2 separate regions of the Homo sapiens genome follow, and region 1 is linked to region 2. The links come from fine-mapping of genetic effects on gene expression. Tissue or cell type: lung. Region 2 holds a variant in brackets; the other region holds the start of a gene. All regions are shown on one strand. Distances are from middle to middle.

Region 1 (8,110 bases), 150 kb before region 2:
TCTGGGCAATGGTGTTGCAATTTCCCTCCCTCCATGCTGGCACCATACCAGCCCCTCTCCAATGGGAGCCCAAGTTGCCAGTGACTGTGGCCAAACTCTCCATTTTTGTCTGTATCCTGCTCTCTTTAGGTTAAAAAGAAGGAAAGAAACATGAAAGGCCATGTGCAATTTATTTTTATAACTCAAGGAGTTTCCCCGACTACCATTTTTTTTGTTGCCAGTGGGTGTGCATATAGAAGAGGAATGCTATATCCTGTCCCTAGAAGTACACATGGTGGTCAGGTATGGTGGCTTATGCCTGTAATCCCAGCACTTTGGGAGGCTGAGATGGGAGGATTGCTTGAGCCCAGGAGTTCGGGACCAGCCTGGGCAACATGGCAAGACCTCTGACTCCACAAAAAAAAATTGTTTTTTTTTTGAGAGAGCATCTCACTCCGTCGCCCAGGCTGGAGTGGTATAATCTTGGCTCACTGCAACCTCTGCCTCTGTCACACACACAAACACACACACACACACACACACACACACACACACACACAAAGAAAAGAAATACAGGCGGTGTTTCAGGGAAGGGAAGGTTCTGCTGGGGTCCTGGAACTGTGACTGATGGCCTCAGGGATGCAGGAATAGGCCTTCTAGCACAGCAGCTAGTAGGCTCCCCCAGGCCATCCGCTGGCGTGTGGAGGTGCAGGACCTGGGGGAGGCAGTCCTCACCCCAGCTAGGCCAAGGGGTAGGGTTTTTAGGTCTGTTTTTAACAGAACTCAGAGCACCAGGTGAAGGTGGAAAGTTGGTAAACTGGGAAAACAAGGTCAGCATCTTACATTTTCTATACTCAGCAGAGTGTGCCATTCCCGGTTTCTGTCCTGAGGCTTTCAGAGGCCACAACAGCCAGGTTTCTTTCCATCTTCCCTCAGTCAGTATGTAGTCATTTAAAATTCTTTGGTTGTTCTGAAGATCCTTTTTTTATGTATAATTTTTACATGAAAGACAGCTGCAAAATGCAAGCCTCAGTAGAGTGGGGGAGTTTTTCAAGGTGAGAAGTCGCTGTTCTCTGCACTGAACAGGGATTGAATTTTCCTTGTCTGATGGTAGCCCATCCCCCTCCCCCGCCGCCCCCCGCAGGGATAACATTCTCAGGAATTTCTCTTGTCCTAGCCCCTTTCATTTCAAAAACAATATTAGTCTTTTGTTTTCCTTTTTCATTCATTTGTTTTTTTACAGCTTTTGTAGAGACCAACCCAAGTAGATGCCAGTGGGTATTAAACAAAAACACACATACCCAGGGGACAAGCCCTCCAGCGGTGAGGAATCTCTGCCATGTTCTCTTCCCTGCTGCCCACGAACATTACGGAGACTCCCTTAGTCTCCCCCTCCTCTTCCCCACTGAGGGGCGGCTTGTGGAGATGGAGGACTCGGGCCCATAGATGCAGACCCACTGTCAAATCCAGCAATAGTTCTCATTCTTCCAAAGCTCGAGTGCCATTTTGAGATGCCCTACCAATGACATGCAGTAAAGGACATAACCTCACAGCCTTTTTAGAAGCATTTTGAATATCTACAGTTGCCTCAATTCACGGGGCATTTCATTCCTCTGATCCAGGTTAGAGTTTTGCTAAATCTGTAGCATCCTGAGTAGCACACTAATTTTTTTTTTAGCACACTAACTTTAACTACATTAGTTGAGTGTAGTTGATACATCTGTGGCCTTGTGTCTATAAAGAGCACACTAGATTGTACCCAGCACTTTTGGATATGACATGCTAATTAGATGTATTTAACTATTCATAGGAAAGTGTATGATAAATGACTGTAATATTTCTAATAAATATATTTTGTTTCTAATTATTTTTTTCTCACTGACATGTATCAATATTTTTTCAAAGTGCCACCCTTAAACTGAGTCTGTTTTCAGACCAGCATCTTCATGCATATATCCTTGTCAGGTCACAGTCTCCACTGCAGCTGCTCTTGCGGGTGGTGCTGGAATTTTCCACAGAGGACTGGGCTCCTGCTGGTTCCTCCGCTGCCCGTGTGCAGCTTTCTTGCTCAGGCCACAGGCTTACGTGAAGATCACCCTTCAAGGCCTACCCAGGACACTGCTGAGCTGTGCAGATGTGCACACGATATGTGCAATGTCATACGTGTGACTAAATGCCAACTGAGACCCCAGAAACCACTCATAGGGGGAATTATGCCAAGATTGAGGAGGCAGGGTGATACTTTTTTTCTTTTTCTGTTTTTTTTTTTTTTTTTTTTTTTGAGATGGAGTCTAGCCCTGTCGCCAGGCTGGAGTACAGTGGCATGATCTTGACTCACTGCAACCTCCACCTCCTGGGTTCAAGCGATTCTTTTGTCTCAGCCTCCCGAGTAGCTGGGACTACAGGCACGTGCCAGCACGCCCAACTAATTTTTGTATTTTTAGTAGAGAACAAGGGGTCACCATGTTAGCCAGGATGGTCTTGATCTCTTGACCTCATGATCTACCTGCCTCTGCCTCCCAAAGTGTTGGGATTACAGGTGGGAGCCACTGCGCCCGGCCACAGATATTTTGTAAATGATTGCTTCCTTACGCCTTTCTAGTTCATGTTTTCTTATACATAGTTACATTTCTTCTTTGCTATACTAAAAATCCCTAATTTTAGTTGGTCAGAGAGAGGGATTTGAGACTGAGCTCCCATCTCCTCGGCTGCAGCATCTGATTAAAGCCTTCTTCCTTTGCAATACTCATCTCAGTGATTGGCTTTCTGTGGGTGAGCAGCGCAGGATCTAGGCTGAAGCCCTGAGGCTTCAGTGACAAAATCTGTTTTTCATAATGCTATCTGTCTTAATTGTCCTCAAGAATTAGTATTTGAGTGCTCTCTAGATTCTCCTTTGTCACCCTTCCTTCCTTTCTTTCTTCCTTTCTTCCTTCCTTCTTTCCTTCTCTTTGCTTCGTTCTCTCCTTCCTTCTTTTCTTTCTTTTTTTGAGACGGAGTCTTGCTCTGTCGCCCAGGCTGGAGTTTGGTGGCACGATATCAGCTCACTGCAACGTTCACCTCCCGGGTTCAAGAGATTCTCCTGTCTCAGCCTCTGGAGTAGCTGGGACTACAGGCACGCGCCACCACGCCCAACTAATTTTTGTATTTTTAGTAGAGAGGGTTTCACCATGTTGGCCAGGCTGGCCTCAAACTCCTGACCTCAAGTGATCTGCCCGCCTCAACCTCCCAAAGTGCTGGGATTACAGGTGTGAGCCACCGCGCCTGGCCGTCACTTTTCTTCAATCTCACTGGTGCTCGCGGGCTGAAGGGTCAGGACGGACTAGAGGCGAGCAATCCTGGTGGCACCAGGCGTTCCCCGACCCGCCCGGGTCGCCAGCTGCACGGACCCTGGGCAGATGCGCGCAGCGGCTGCGGCACACGGCGGGGAGCGGCTGCTTGGCCCCATCCTAAGGCAGCAGAATGCCCAGAGCTGGTCCCTGGCTCCAGGCGCAGGCCGAGTAGGAGCTGGGCGGGCAGCGGCGTCGGGCAGGCCCTTCCAGCCGGGCTGACAGGCCGCTCTGACCCAGCCATCTGACTCCGCTTGCGTCCTGGCAGCGCGGACCCTAGGGCAACTTTGCTGCAGTGGCCAAGCCGGGGGCGGAACTGACCCGTACCCCTGAACCGAGCAAGCCTAGGAGCAGGTGCGCCGGCGGCGCTGTGAAGCGGCACTCATGACAGGCAGGCTGGGCACCGCCACCCCGAAACCTCCGAGGGAGGACCAGCCAGCCCAGGTTGGCGCTGGAGCTGCAGCGCCACCTGCAGGCCAAGGAGTCTTTTTCTGGGAGGCTGGAGCTGCAGCGCCACCTGCAGGCCAAGGAGTCTTTTTCTGGGAGGCTGGAGCTGCAGCGCCACCTGCAGGCCAAGGAGTCTTTTTCTGGGAGGCTGGAGCTGCAGATGCAGTGAAGTCACAGGTTCCGTGATGTCACAGGTGGGCAGGCGCACTGGTCTGTAACGGATTGGCTTGGCCTTACCCACGAGGCTTTGCGGTGGCTGTTGGCTTGGCGGTGGTCGCTTGGCTTGGCGTGGCAGTGATCGCTTGGCTTGGCATTTCTGGCTTGGCGGTCCTCCTTTCGCAGATTGGAAACCGCGGGCTATCCTGCTGGGAGGTTGTGGCCGAGGCAGTAGCTCGCTACTGATGGCCTCCTGGGGTGGAGAAAAGCGGGGAGGGGCTGAGGGGTCTCCGAAGCCGGCAGTCTACGCCACGAGGAAGACCCCTAGCGTCGGGAGCCAGGGGGACCAGTGGTACTTGGGCTACCCGGGGGACCAGTGGTCCTCGGGCTTCCCCTACAGCTGGTGGAAAAACAGCGTCGGCAGCGAGAGCAAGCACGGTGAGGGCGCCTTAGACCAGCCCCAGCACGACGTCCGCCTGGAAGATCTTGGCGAGCTCCACAGAGCTGCCCGGTCGGGCGACGTCCCTGGGGTGGAGCACATCTTAGCTCCTGGAGACACTGGCGTGGACAAGAGGGATAGGAAGAAGAGGTAATGGCCAGGCGAAGGATGCGCCGTCCTGTCGGGGACACTGGCTTTCTGGTGCCCGCAGGCCCCACGGCACCCGGGATGGGGAAACGTCAGAGGGGTCAGGGGCCCAGGCCTCTTAGTGAGACGGGATCAAATATAAAGGATTATTACTATTGCAAAAGTGTTGGTCTACTTTACAGGAGTTTTCTTTAAAAATATTGCACTTCCCAACTGTGTTTATCCATTTTCTCAATTTATTCATCAAACATAAGCTGAATACCTATTATACAGCAGACATATTCTACTGTCGCTCAGGTTCCTTCCATCCTTAAGAACTTCATGTTGGCCGAGCTCGGTGGCTCATGCCTGTAATCCCAGCACTTTGGGAGGCCGAGGAGGGCAGATCACGAGGTCAGAAGTTCGAGACCAGGCTGACCAACATGGTGAAACCCCGCCTGTTATGCTTTTGTCTCAGCCTAGACTTAGCTAAGACCTTCATGATAAATTATCCTTTAGGCCCTCGGGGTTCAGTTCAAATAATGTTGCAGAAAGAGAGGAGTTTCCTTTTTTCATTGCTACCAGATCTGTATGCTGAGGACCCTTTTCTTAGATCGTGGAATGTCCCATATTATCCTTTCCCAGATTTGTGGCAGGAAGCCATCACCAGAATTCTGAGTCTCAAGTATGTTAGTTGGATTTAACAGAGCTAAGTCTCATCCATGACTCATGAATATCCATGTATAAAATGAGAGCTTTGGCAGGGTGCAGTGGCTCATGCCTGTAATCCCAGCAATTTGGGAGGCTAAGGTGGGCGGATCACGAGGTCAGGTGATTGAGAGCATCCTGGCTAACACGGTGAAACCCCGTCACTACTAAAAAATACAAAAAAAAAATAGCCGGGCGTGGTGGTGGGCGCCTGTAGTCCCAGCTACTCAGGAGGCTAAGGCTGGAGAATGGCATGAACCCAGGAGGCGGAGCTTGCAGTGAGCCGAGATCGCGCCACTGCACTCCAGCCTGGGTGACAGAGCGAGACTCAGTCTAAAACAAACAAACAAACAAACAAACAAACAAAACTTGCTTCAGCAGCAAACATATACTGAAATTGGAACAAAATGGAGAGAAATTAGCATGGCCCCTGCCTGCATAAGGATGATGCACAGATTTTTGAAGTGGTCCATATTTTGCGCAGTCACTAGAAGTTCATTTGACTATTTGCTGACTAGTTCCAAAGACAGTGTGAGTCAAAGCAAACTGGGTATCACCTAATATTAAAATTGTGATTTTTCACTACAAAAATATGCAGTAAGGTGATCAATGGAGCTGAGTAACACGTGGGATGTTGTGTGCAAATATATTGTCAGTATGTATCTCAGAAATGAGAGAATGTCAACTTGCATGTCTTTCATGGAACTGAAAAAGAAAAGTAGCATTTTGTTTTCCATGTCAGTTGGAGATGAACATGGGGATTGAGCATCCTTCTAACAAAGATCTGCCGATTCAGAGTTTGAGTCTGTATGGAACAGTAGTCCAAGCTAGGTCTTGACATCTATTAGCTTTCTCCCCTTGGCGTGATTGATGAGCTCAGTAATAGTGGACAGTGTTGTTATCTAGTTTGATGAAATAATATATTTATAAGTAAATTTAGTTACAAACTATGAACTAGCTGTGATGCCCCAAATTATAAGCCACAAAGAATAGAACTAATAAAACTAGAACTTAATAACAGTTTTGGAAAACTGCAACATTTGAATATTAGAACCTCTGGAAAAATACACATTGGGTTTTATTTGTGATTCCAAAACCATTTCCTCAATAAAGCTCAAGAACAAATTATTTCATTGCTTCACTGTTTCTCTGAGCATTTACAAAACGTTTTCTTGTTAAATCTTTAACAACCTAGTGAAATAAGGCAGTAAAATCCTTGCTTTTTAGAAGAATACATTGAGCCTAAGAGAAGCAACTTGTCAGAGAATAAATAGCTGCTGGTAATAGAGCTAGGACGCTTTCCATTATGCCAAGCTAATGTGAGTTAATTTACTGAGCTATACTCCCTTCAATTCATGAGTACTTCATCTTTTTTTCTTCTTCAGAAGCTTAAAGAGAAGTTGGTAGAACTCACAAATTGAAGTATATGGGATAATTAAAGTTCTGATATTAACTCTGATATTGTTTGAAATACTCTAAAAATTTAATATATTTGGTATTTTTCATTTGTTTTAAAATAGTAATTTCATTTATTACATTTTTATCCATAGCATTCAGCAACTAGTTCCTGAATATAAGGAAAAACAGACACCTGAAAGTCTTCCTCAAAATAACAATCCAGGTAAGACTTCTGATAGTGAATTATTTTTGGTGGTCCTACCATAGGTAAAAAAGAAGTAAGAGTAAGGAAGTTTTGATCATGAAAGAGCAGTTTTAAAAAATCTTTATTTCTTTCTTGATAGGTTAGATTTCTTGGTAGGTTAGATGTCACAATTATTTAAAAAGTTAATTGTAGGTCATTTATTTTTTCAAACAATCTGGTCTGAAAAAAAATTAATTATGGTCCCTAAAATCCTATGTGATATTTTTGTATAAATAAGAAAAAGTGTTTTTTTTTGTTTTTTTTTTGAGACGGAGTCTCGCTGTCGCCCAGGCTGGAGTGCAGTGGTGCGATCTCGGCTCACTGCAGGCTCCACCCCCTGGTTCACGCCATTCTCTTGCCTCAGCCTGCGGAGTAGCTGGGACTACAGGCGCCCGCCACCCCGCCCGGCTAATTTTTTGTATTTTTAGTAGAGATGGGGTTTCACCGTGTTAGCCAGGATGGTCTCGATCTCCTGACCTCATGATCCATCCGCCTCGGCCTCCCAAAGTGCTGGGATTACAGGCGTGAGCCACCGCGCCCGGCCAAGAAAAAGATATTTTTGAGTTAGTAAGTTGTATGTTTTCTTTATAGTCACCTTATAATGAATTAGACTTGTTATGAAATTGGAACTTCTATTTAATTTTTAAAATAAATGACTTATGTTTAGTAAATGAATATCAATCACAATTGACCCTTAACAATGTGGAATTTAGGGATGCTTGATTCCCTCTGCAGTCAAACATCTGTGTATAACTTTTGACTCCCCCAAGAACGTAACTACTAATAGCTAACTGTTGACCAGCAGCCTTATTGATAACATAAACAGTCAATTAAGATATGTTTGGTATGGTATATGTATTAATATGCTGTATTCTTACAATAAAGGAAGCTAGGGAAATAAACTGTTAAGAAAATCATAAGGCAGAAAAAATACGCTTACTGTTCATTAAATGCAAGTGGATCATTATATAACTCTTCATCATAGTCTTCAAGTTGAGCAGGCTAAGGAGAAGGAGGAAGAGGAAGATTGGTCTTCGCTGTCTCAGGTGGTAGAGGTGGGAGAAAATCTGCTCATAAGTAGACCCCTGCAGTTCAAATCCGTGTTGTTCAAAGGCTAACTATATTACATAGTGATTTGTGTCACTAAAAAAAAGAAATTAGTTTCAAAACTGGAAACTCGGCAATACCTTTCTGGCACCATAAACAAATGGCAATAAGAACTGTGAAATGGCCAGGTGTGCTGCCCACACCTGTAGTCCCAGCAAGTTGGGAGGCCTAGGTGGGAGG
Region 2 (8,110 bases):
CCACCCCCACCCCAAAGAGGGACAAAGGGGACCCCGGAATCTTGGACAAAAACCTCAGCGTTCAGGTGTCAGGGTGGGCCTGGAGTTCCAGTCCAACCACAGACCCATCACCCTCAGAACTGAAAATGGTCTTCAAGGTCACCAAAGCCTATCAATACCCCAACCGGAGAGGGCGAAAGCCTTATCCAGGTTAAGCAGCACAAAAGTGAGAGAGCACAGACCGGAGCCAGCTCCAACTCCCAAGCCAGGATTCACACCGACTCTCACAGTGGAGTCTCCGAGAACTCTTCACTCTCTGCCCCCACCGTGTGTGCGTGCACACACACCCCTTTCTCATTGGCTCACTGCCCCCCGCCAAGTTCCCCATTCCAGGAGGTGTCAGGGTGGGATTATACACAAGCCCAGCACTGCAGACCTGAGGATCTGCGTGGGCTGAGAAGCTGCAGGAAGTTGCTGACCAACGCGCCAAACTGCTCAGCCAACTCCATAGATCACGCACCTGCCGTGTGCACAGCTCTCGGGGGCTGGGGGTGAAGAGGGAAATGATGACATAGTCTCTGACCTTAGAAGAACTTATCATTTGACCCTGGAGGGAAAACTAACGCTGGAAAATGCAGAACCTGGCTAGAAACCCTAGGGTACTGGGCTTGCCTGCCACGCCCACACCACAGGAGGCAGCTGGGGTAAGCATTACCCCGCTGAGCCTCAGCAGTAGAGGAGGGGGCTGCCCTCCTGGCCTTGATCCCTGAAAGGGTCCCAGCAGAGGGAGGCACCAGCAGGGCCTCAGAGGATCTGAGTTGACAGAGGAGGAGGAGGCGTTTCCTCTGCATCAGTGATGCACACCTGCCCCAAGGTGGCCAAGAGCCAGGACCACTAAGCCTGGTGAGCATAGAGAAGCCCAATGGGCATCCTCCAGGCAGAGGATTCCTCCCCGCACCCTGCCTCCTTCCTCCCTCCTTCGTCCTGCCCATGTCAAGCATGAGGCAGGAGATCATAGCATACCTGAGGAGGCCGGGAATCACCATTGGCCAATGCCATGCCTTGGCTTGCAGTGATTCTCCAACCAGACAGATCATCAGAGTCCCCAAGAAGATTCGCAGCCCTGCTCCAACTCCTGCATCAGCACCACTCAGGACAAGCCTGCTGGTGGGGCTGTTTTACAAGCTCCCCAGCCAACTCAGACTGGGAAGGCAGGAGGCAGCTTAGGGGGCTGAGGAGTGGGGCAGAGAAGCTGAGGGGAGAGAGGGGGCTGCTGCAGGGCCCCCAGCCCTGGGTGGACAAGCCAGAGCCACAGGCTTCAGGGCAGGAGGAAGGAAAAGTAGAGCCCCACTGAGCCAGGACAGAGCAGCCTGGAATCGGGGCAAGCAGGGGCGAAACCTTGGGCAGGATATTCAGCCTCTCTGAGCCTCAGTTTCCTTGTCTGGGAAATGGGAATAACAGCCCTGTGTCACAGGCATATTAGGGGATTTGAGGCCAAATAAATAAAGCACCTGGCAAAGGCTGGTGGCTAGCGTTATGTTTATGAGCAGGTGTTTATAAAGCACCTACTGTGTGCCTGGCACTGTGCTGGGCACTCAGACTCAAAGAACAAGACAGAGAAGCCCTGGAGACATAGTCTTCTGGGGGAGAAGGTGGTAAAGACAATCCTAATACACTAAAGTCAGGCCACGATGGGGTGCTGGGGCCCTGCAGAGAAACAGAGGGAGCAGGGTTCCTGGGGGAGAACGAATGTCCAGGCCCAGGCTCTGCCCCTGTGATGGCTCCAGGGATCTGGGGAAATCTGTGAGTGCCAGGCCCACCATCGGGGGTCCTCTCCCCTCCTGCAAGTTTGACGCCCCCCTTCTGAAGGTGGGGCTGTCATAGCCCTTCACAATCCAACCACAGATCTGCAGCTTCTGCCTTGATGACGGGGTGAAACATTCTGTGCAGTGGGCAGGGTGGCTGTGGACGAACTGTGAGTCCTTCCATGAGTCCCATAGCTGGGTCCCCAGTCCAGCCCAGGCACATGTCCTCAGCAGCCTGGACCCACTTGGGGTGCCTGTTCTGCACAAACAAGGGGCCCGGACTCCTGTATGAGTCTCAGGAAACCCCCAAGAGGGGCTCCCATTGCCCCCACCCCAGGAGTGTGAGCGGGAAGCTGGTGCCTCCAGGGAAGGCTGCAGACCCCAGGGGGTTGTGGGAGAAAGAGTGGGCCTCTCTCAGGGATGTTTCTTCAAATGGTCACTACAGCTCAGGGTGAGGACGGGTCTCTGTTAAGCTCAGTTATCCCCTCGGCTCTGTGCATGTGGGGAGACCTGCCTGGCTCTGCTCCCTCTGTTCCCCTCATCTCCCCAAAACCTTGGTTGCCGCAATAGACCCACACTGCATAAGGGCTGAGGGACTGTTGTCAGTCCCTCAGGTCCCCTTGGGGCAGGCACTGTCTCTTGGGGTCAGGACCGGTGTCTCCTCCTTTCCCTGGACTCAGTGCAAACCAGACGCAGAGCGATGTCATGCCATGGATGAGTGTCCCCCACCACATCCGTCTCCGTAGAAGACATGCTGCCAGGTCAACCCCTGCAAGGGGGGTCCGGAGGCAGCTACCACTGGCATGGGCCTGGCCTGAGAGTCCTATATGTGTGTCCATCACACGAGACCAGGTGTGGCAGCTCTACAGGGCAACCACAGATCCGCAGCTTCTGCCTTGAGGACATTCTGTGCAGTGGGCAGGGAGTGTGTGGACGAACTGTGAGTCCCTCCTTGAGTCCCATAGCTGGGTCCCCAATCCAGCCCAGGCACATGTCCCCAGCATCCTGGGCCCACTTGGGGTCCTTGGACAAAGTCACTCAAGTCTCCCCACCAGCCCCTGGCAACCACTGCCTCTACTGGCTCAGCTCTCTGGGCACACCGGGGGGCTCCCCCATTCTGGCCTCCTGAGCCTCCCACCCACTCACTTTGTGGAGAAGGGCTTCTTCCCCAGCAGAGGGGCACAGTCTGGGGCTGTCTCTGGTCCTTCCCACACTCTGACCCCTCCTCACTCACGCCATCAGTAATTGTGGACCCCAGGCTCTACAGGAGGGAGAGATAGCCCTGCCTGGAGCCTGAGGTGGGGGAGGAGCTGGGGCTTGGCTCCTCTTCCCAGCACGGAAGCGGGGCCCACTCCCCTCCCATGCCCGTCTCCACTACTGACCCCTCAGGCTGTGGGACAAGGGCTGAGTCACTGCTCCTTGGAGCCTCAGTGTCCCCATCCACACAACAAGGCGCCTTCCCCTAGACCCTCCCTGCTTCCGGGGACTATTCAGACAAATGAAGTCACCCTCCAGAATGAGCCATCTGCAGCCCAGGGCTGTTCTTCTGGTTGTGGCGGGGTGTATGGTGGGGGCCTGGTGCAAACAGTGCCTCCCTCCTGCCCTCCATGGCCCCACATTTGCTGCCAGAGAGCAGGGAGACGTCAGCCTCCAACGGAGCAGAGCTTGCCCTTGCTTTGAGTCGTGCAGATGCCGCTGCAGGTGCAAGTCCCCGACTCCAGGCAGCCATCTACCCTGCAGAGAGAAACACTCTCCCGGGATGTCATAGCTCCAAGGTCCAGGGAGGGCTTGTGACCAGCCCAAAGTCACCCATACCCCAGTGGTCAGTACCCACCCCCATCCCTGGCCTCTGCCAGTCCCAAACCCCCACCAACCCAGGCTCAGAGGGCTCTGGTCACTCCCATTCTCCTCGGACCTGGGCCCCA[C/A]CCCCAGCCTCCAGGCACCAGGAGAGAGAGGGTGTTTGGGGGCCTTGGTCTGATTCCGCAGCAGCAGAGACACCACAGGTGCAGCAGTGATGACGTGGCGGCACCCTCCTCCCACTAACCCCCTGCTTGAAGAAAACCAGGAAAGCAGGCCAACCCACCTGGCAGTTTCCAGATTTACTACAAGGAAGATTTCCAGGTGTCAGGCTCACCTCCCACAGACTGCTCCCCACAGCCACGTTTGCTGCCACCAGCAAGAGCTGGGGTTGGTCAGCTCATAGAGGGTGCCGGGAGTGGCTGGAGCAGGACTGTTCCTTCTCATTTTCCTAGGAGGCAGTTTCTACCCTCCCTCACACCACCCCTGTCCCTAGTGGGGAACCAAAGAGGATCCAGACCGCCAGGGAGAGTGGCACTGCTCCCTGGGCACAGCCACCCCATCTGCAGTGCCCCCCACTCTGCCCTGTCCGCATCCTGAGCAACAGCTGACCATGTGAGGAAACATCCTTGAGAGAGGCCCCACCCTTTCTCCCATACCTGCCTGGGGTCCGCAGCCTTCCCTGAAAACACCACCCTCCCGCTCACATTCCCAGGGCAGAGGCAATGGGAGCCCCTCTTGGGGATTTCCTGAGACTCACACAGGAGTCGGGGCCCCAATCACCCAGCCTGCCTCCCCCACCCACCCTCCCTTTGTGCTTATCCCAGCCCTTGCCCACCTCCTGCCCCATCTAGGGGGAGGGCACAGCCCACAGGACAGGAAGGAGCAACTGATTGAGTGAGTCATCTCTGAGGATTCGGGCTCCCACACCTGAGATCTTCCCATCCATTTACGGATGGAAAAGCAAGGCTCAGTCAGGGGAAGTGACTGCCTAACTTCCCGAGGTCACAGAGTTACTCACGGGGCAAGCAGTGGCGACCTAGGACCACACCTGATACACCGCCTCCACCCCGGGTCTAGCGCAGCCTGGACCACCCCCTGAAAATCTCCAGCCCTTGGGAGATGCGAGCACCCCCCTCCAAACTCTCCCCAGACTTACTCTTTATGCTGGTCTAAGCTGACCTCTGACCTGCCAGTCAACAACGGGGTCTCCACGCACCATCTCCCCTCACCCTCACTCCTTCCCATTTCACCCTTTTGTCCCCAGTGCCCACTTCAGCGGCCAGAACAAGGACACATTTCATAGCTGAGTCAACGAGCTTTATTGTCATCACGCAGGGAAGCATGGGGAAGGGACTGAAGCAGGGGGCTGAGGGTGGAGAGGCCGGAGACCGCGGGGCAGATGGGACCGCTGCCTCCCTGCCTCCTGGGGGGCCGGCCAGGAAAGCTGAGTGCTCAGCGGGTGGTCTGGCGGACCTGCTCGCGGGAGGAGATGACCTTACCATCCTGGACCTCTTCCACAATGGTAGGCACCTGACAGGTGGTCACCGCTGCAGGAGAAGCAGGCAATTTAAAGTGGGTAGGGGCCAGGAGGCCCTCGCTTGCCCCCTAGCCCTCATGGACAGGAGCCGGCTCTCTCCCTCGTCCTCCCCCAGGTGCTGTGAGTGCCTCCACTGGCACCTCAACATCACACTGCACACACATCCCTCCTGTCCCTGCCACCGCCTCCCTTCCATCCCATCCCTCTGCCGGTGGCCCTGTGTGAGTCTTGCCTCCGCAGATGGGTTATTTGATTCTGACCCAGTGTGTCCTGCCAGGGAGGAGCCATGTAGACTCCATGAAATCCATCTCCATTTCTCTGCAGTCTCCAGGACATAGATTTGCTCCCATCTCCCCCATCAGACTGGGATCGCCAAGACAAAAACCAGGCCCCTATCTCCTCCATTAGACTAGGAACCCTGGGGCTAGAATCATATCTTCTCCATCAGACTGGAATTTGGAGGACAAGGACCAGGTCCCTATTTCCCATCAGGCTAGAGACCCCAGAGACAGGACTGCTTTCGCTCATCCGAAAGCTGTCAAGAGCAAAGATCATGAGACCATGTTCCTATCTTCCCATCAGATGACAATCTCCAGAGCTGGGACATGTCTCCTCCATCAGACTAGGATCTCCAAGGTAAGGACCAGTTCCCTGGCCCACCCCATCAGAGCAGACAGCATCTCTCTCATTTGATCTTTTCCTGAGTATCAATCCTCAGTGCTAATGGGTCACTTCTCCCACCCCTGCTGAGGGACAGCCATCAACTCCTAGAACTCCTGGGGACTCAGCCCCAGCAACGTGCAGGTGGGCTGCCTGTCCCTTGCACCCAATCCCCAAGGCCTCAGCCACCAAGATGCTTATGTTCTTTCTTGTACTGAGTCAGGCTGAAAGAAAAAAAAAAACAGAGAGGAAATTAGATGTGAGTCTGAGAGCCCCCCCCCGCCAAGAGGCCCCCAGCCCTGACCCCAGGCTCCCCCACTCACTGGGCATCCTCGCCCTCCAGCAGGCGGTGGTAGGTGGTGATCTCCAGCTCCAGCCGCATCTTCATGTCCAGGAGGATCTTGTACTCCTGGTTCTGCTGCTCCATCTCGCAGAGAAGCTGGGCCAGCCGCTCCTCCACACTGCCGATCAGCCCCTGGATCTGGGACAGCTGCATGCAGTAGCGGTTCTCTGTCTCCGCCAGGTTGCCCTCCAGGGATGCTTTCTGCAGGAGGGCAGGAAGACCAGGGGTCAGTGAGGGTTGTCAGTGTCCTCTTCTGGGCCCATCCCCATGCACAGGACTGTTCCTACCATGCTGAGCTGGGACTGCAGCTCGATCTCCAAGGCCTGCATGGTGCACCGGAGCTCCGAAATCTCGCTCTTGCCGCTCTGGACCAGCTCACTGTTGGTAGCCACCTCGCGGTTCAGCTCCTCTGTCTGCAGACAGAACACAGGACAGGGTTGTGTGAGCCTGGATCCCTCTCCTCAGTCAGGCCTCCTCCCAAATCTAACTGTGGACAGAGTGATGCGTTCTCACCAGCTTCCCACGTCCCAAAGCCCAGAAACATGCCATTTGAAATGTTAACTTTTTATGGTTAATCCCTGCGTGTGGGAGGCACAGACCGGAAACTTGAGAACCAGCCAGAACATTAGCCTGGCTCTTGGTGCTAGTTTCTGACTTCTTGAGAGAGAGGTGGGGACTCCCAAGATCTTTACCCTCTGCCTTTATTCTGTGGGGGCTCCCTACCTCCCCACCCACCCCCCAGATCCCAGCTTGAGCTCAGCTCCAGGTCTCTTGATGCAGTGGGTGACCCTGTGGTCCATGCAGCTTTCTGAGGAGGGAGCATCTCCAAGACACCTGGCCGTGGGCTTACTGTCAGTGCTAAGGCCCCTGAGCCCCAGCCCCGAAGAGAGACCTCTGGCCTGCAGCAGCCCCCACCTTGCTGAAGAACCAATCCTCGGCATCCTTGCGGTTCTTCTCTGCCATCTTCTCATACTGCTCACGCATCTCATTCAGGATGCGGCTCAGGTCCACACCTGGGGCAGCGCCCATCTCCACATTGATCTCACCGCCCACCTGGCCTCGCGGGGCGTTCATCTCCTATGGAAAAAGGGGATGTGGATGTGCGCATCTGGACCCATCCTGATCTCTCACTCCCAAGCCTTCCCCCACGAGGTGACCCCACTCCCCACAAGGACCCCTCCTTTGTTCTTCCTCTGCTCTATCTGACCCTCTAAATGATTTTTATTCATCTGCTCAGTATTGCCTCCACCATCAGACTCTATCTCCCCCATTAGACCAACGGCTCTCCAAAATAAAATCTAATTATTAGGCCTATGCCCCAAAAATTTCCCCTCTAATTTCCAAGCTTCTGTGTAGATGTTCAGCTTTGAGAGTTTGAAATGGGACAAGAAGGAGACTTCCTTACTTATCCCCTGCCCTCGTGAGGGAGGCCAGGGCAGGTAGAGGGAGCCTCTGCGGGCCCCTGGGAGGTTCCTTGGGTACAGAGAAGCAGTGTGGTACAAAGAGGAGTCTGCCCTGCACGCTGGACCCCAAGGATCAGGGCTCCGCAGACAGGGAAGCCCTCTAAGGTGACTAATCCCAGTGCGCCTGCTCTGCTCTCTCCCACGGCCTCAGCCATGGCCCAGCCCCAGGGCTCTGCCACCCACTCCTCAGCATCTTTGACCTTCTGCCCCAGCCACCTCACCTCGTGGTTCTTCTTCAGGTAGGCCAGCTCCTCCTTGAGGTTCTCAATGTGCATCTCCAGGTCGGCTCTGGCCAGGGTCAGCTCATCCAGCACCCTGCACGGGCCATTGATGTCGGCCTCCACACTCAGGCACAGGGCCTGCTCTGTCTCAAACCTGCCATGGGAATCAGGGACTTCAGCCCAGGCTGCTTGGAATTGCAGGTCCAGGTCCTGGCTGCTCACCTGCCTTCATTTTGCCAGGACTCTAAGGGGTTGGAAGGGCTGATGAGAGGGTCGAGTGGAAACGAATTCCAGCCCCGGGG

What was found. PIP is the estimated chance that this variant, and not a neighbour inherited with it, causes the effect.
Region 1: CCDC144A starts here. The variant in region 2 is fine-mapped to the expression of CCDC144A in lung (GTEx, PIP above 0.99). The same link has a PIP of 0.9 or more in atrial appendage, esophagus mucosa, esophagus muscle, left ventricle, skeletal muscle and thyroid.

Annotation. Positions count from the first base shown.
Region 1 is chr17:16,686,248-16,694,357 of GRCh38, forward strand. It overlaps CCDC144A (coiled-coil domain containing 144A), which reads left to right and starts at 3,994. Exons shown (of 17, transcript NM_001382000.1): 1 at 3,994-4,497; 2 at 6,732-6,802. The coding sequence starts at 4,154. It also overlaps the pseudogene RNU6-405P. RefSeq lists enhancers at 696-1,196, 2,984-3,887.
Region 2 is chr17:16,835,859-16,843,968 of GRCh38, forward strand. It overlaps the pseudogene KRT17P1. Among named protein-coding and RNA genes, the nearest start is that of FAM106C, 51 kb to the left of the region's middle. RefSeq lists enhancers at 1-230, 4,381-4,930. The variant C/A (reference allele first, on the strand shown) is at 3,710.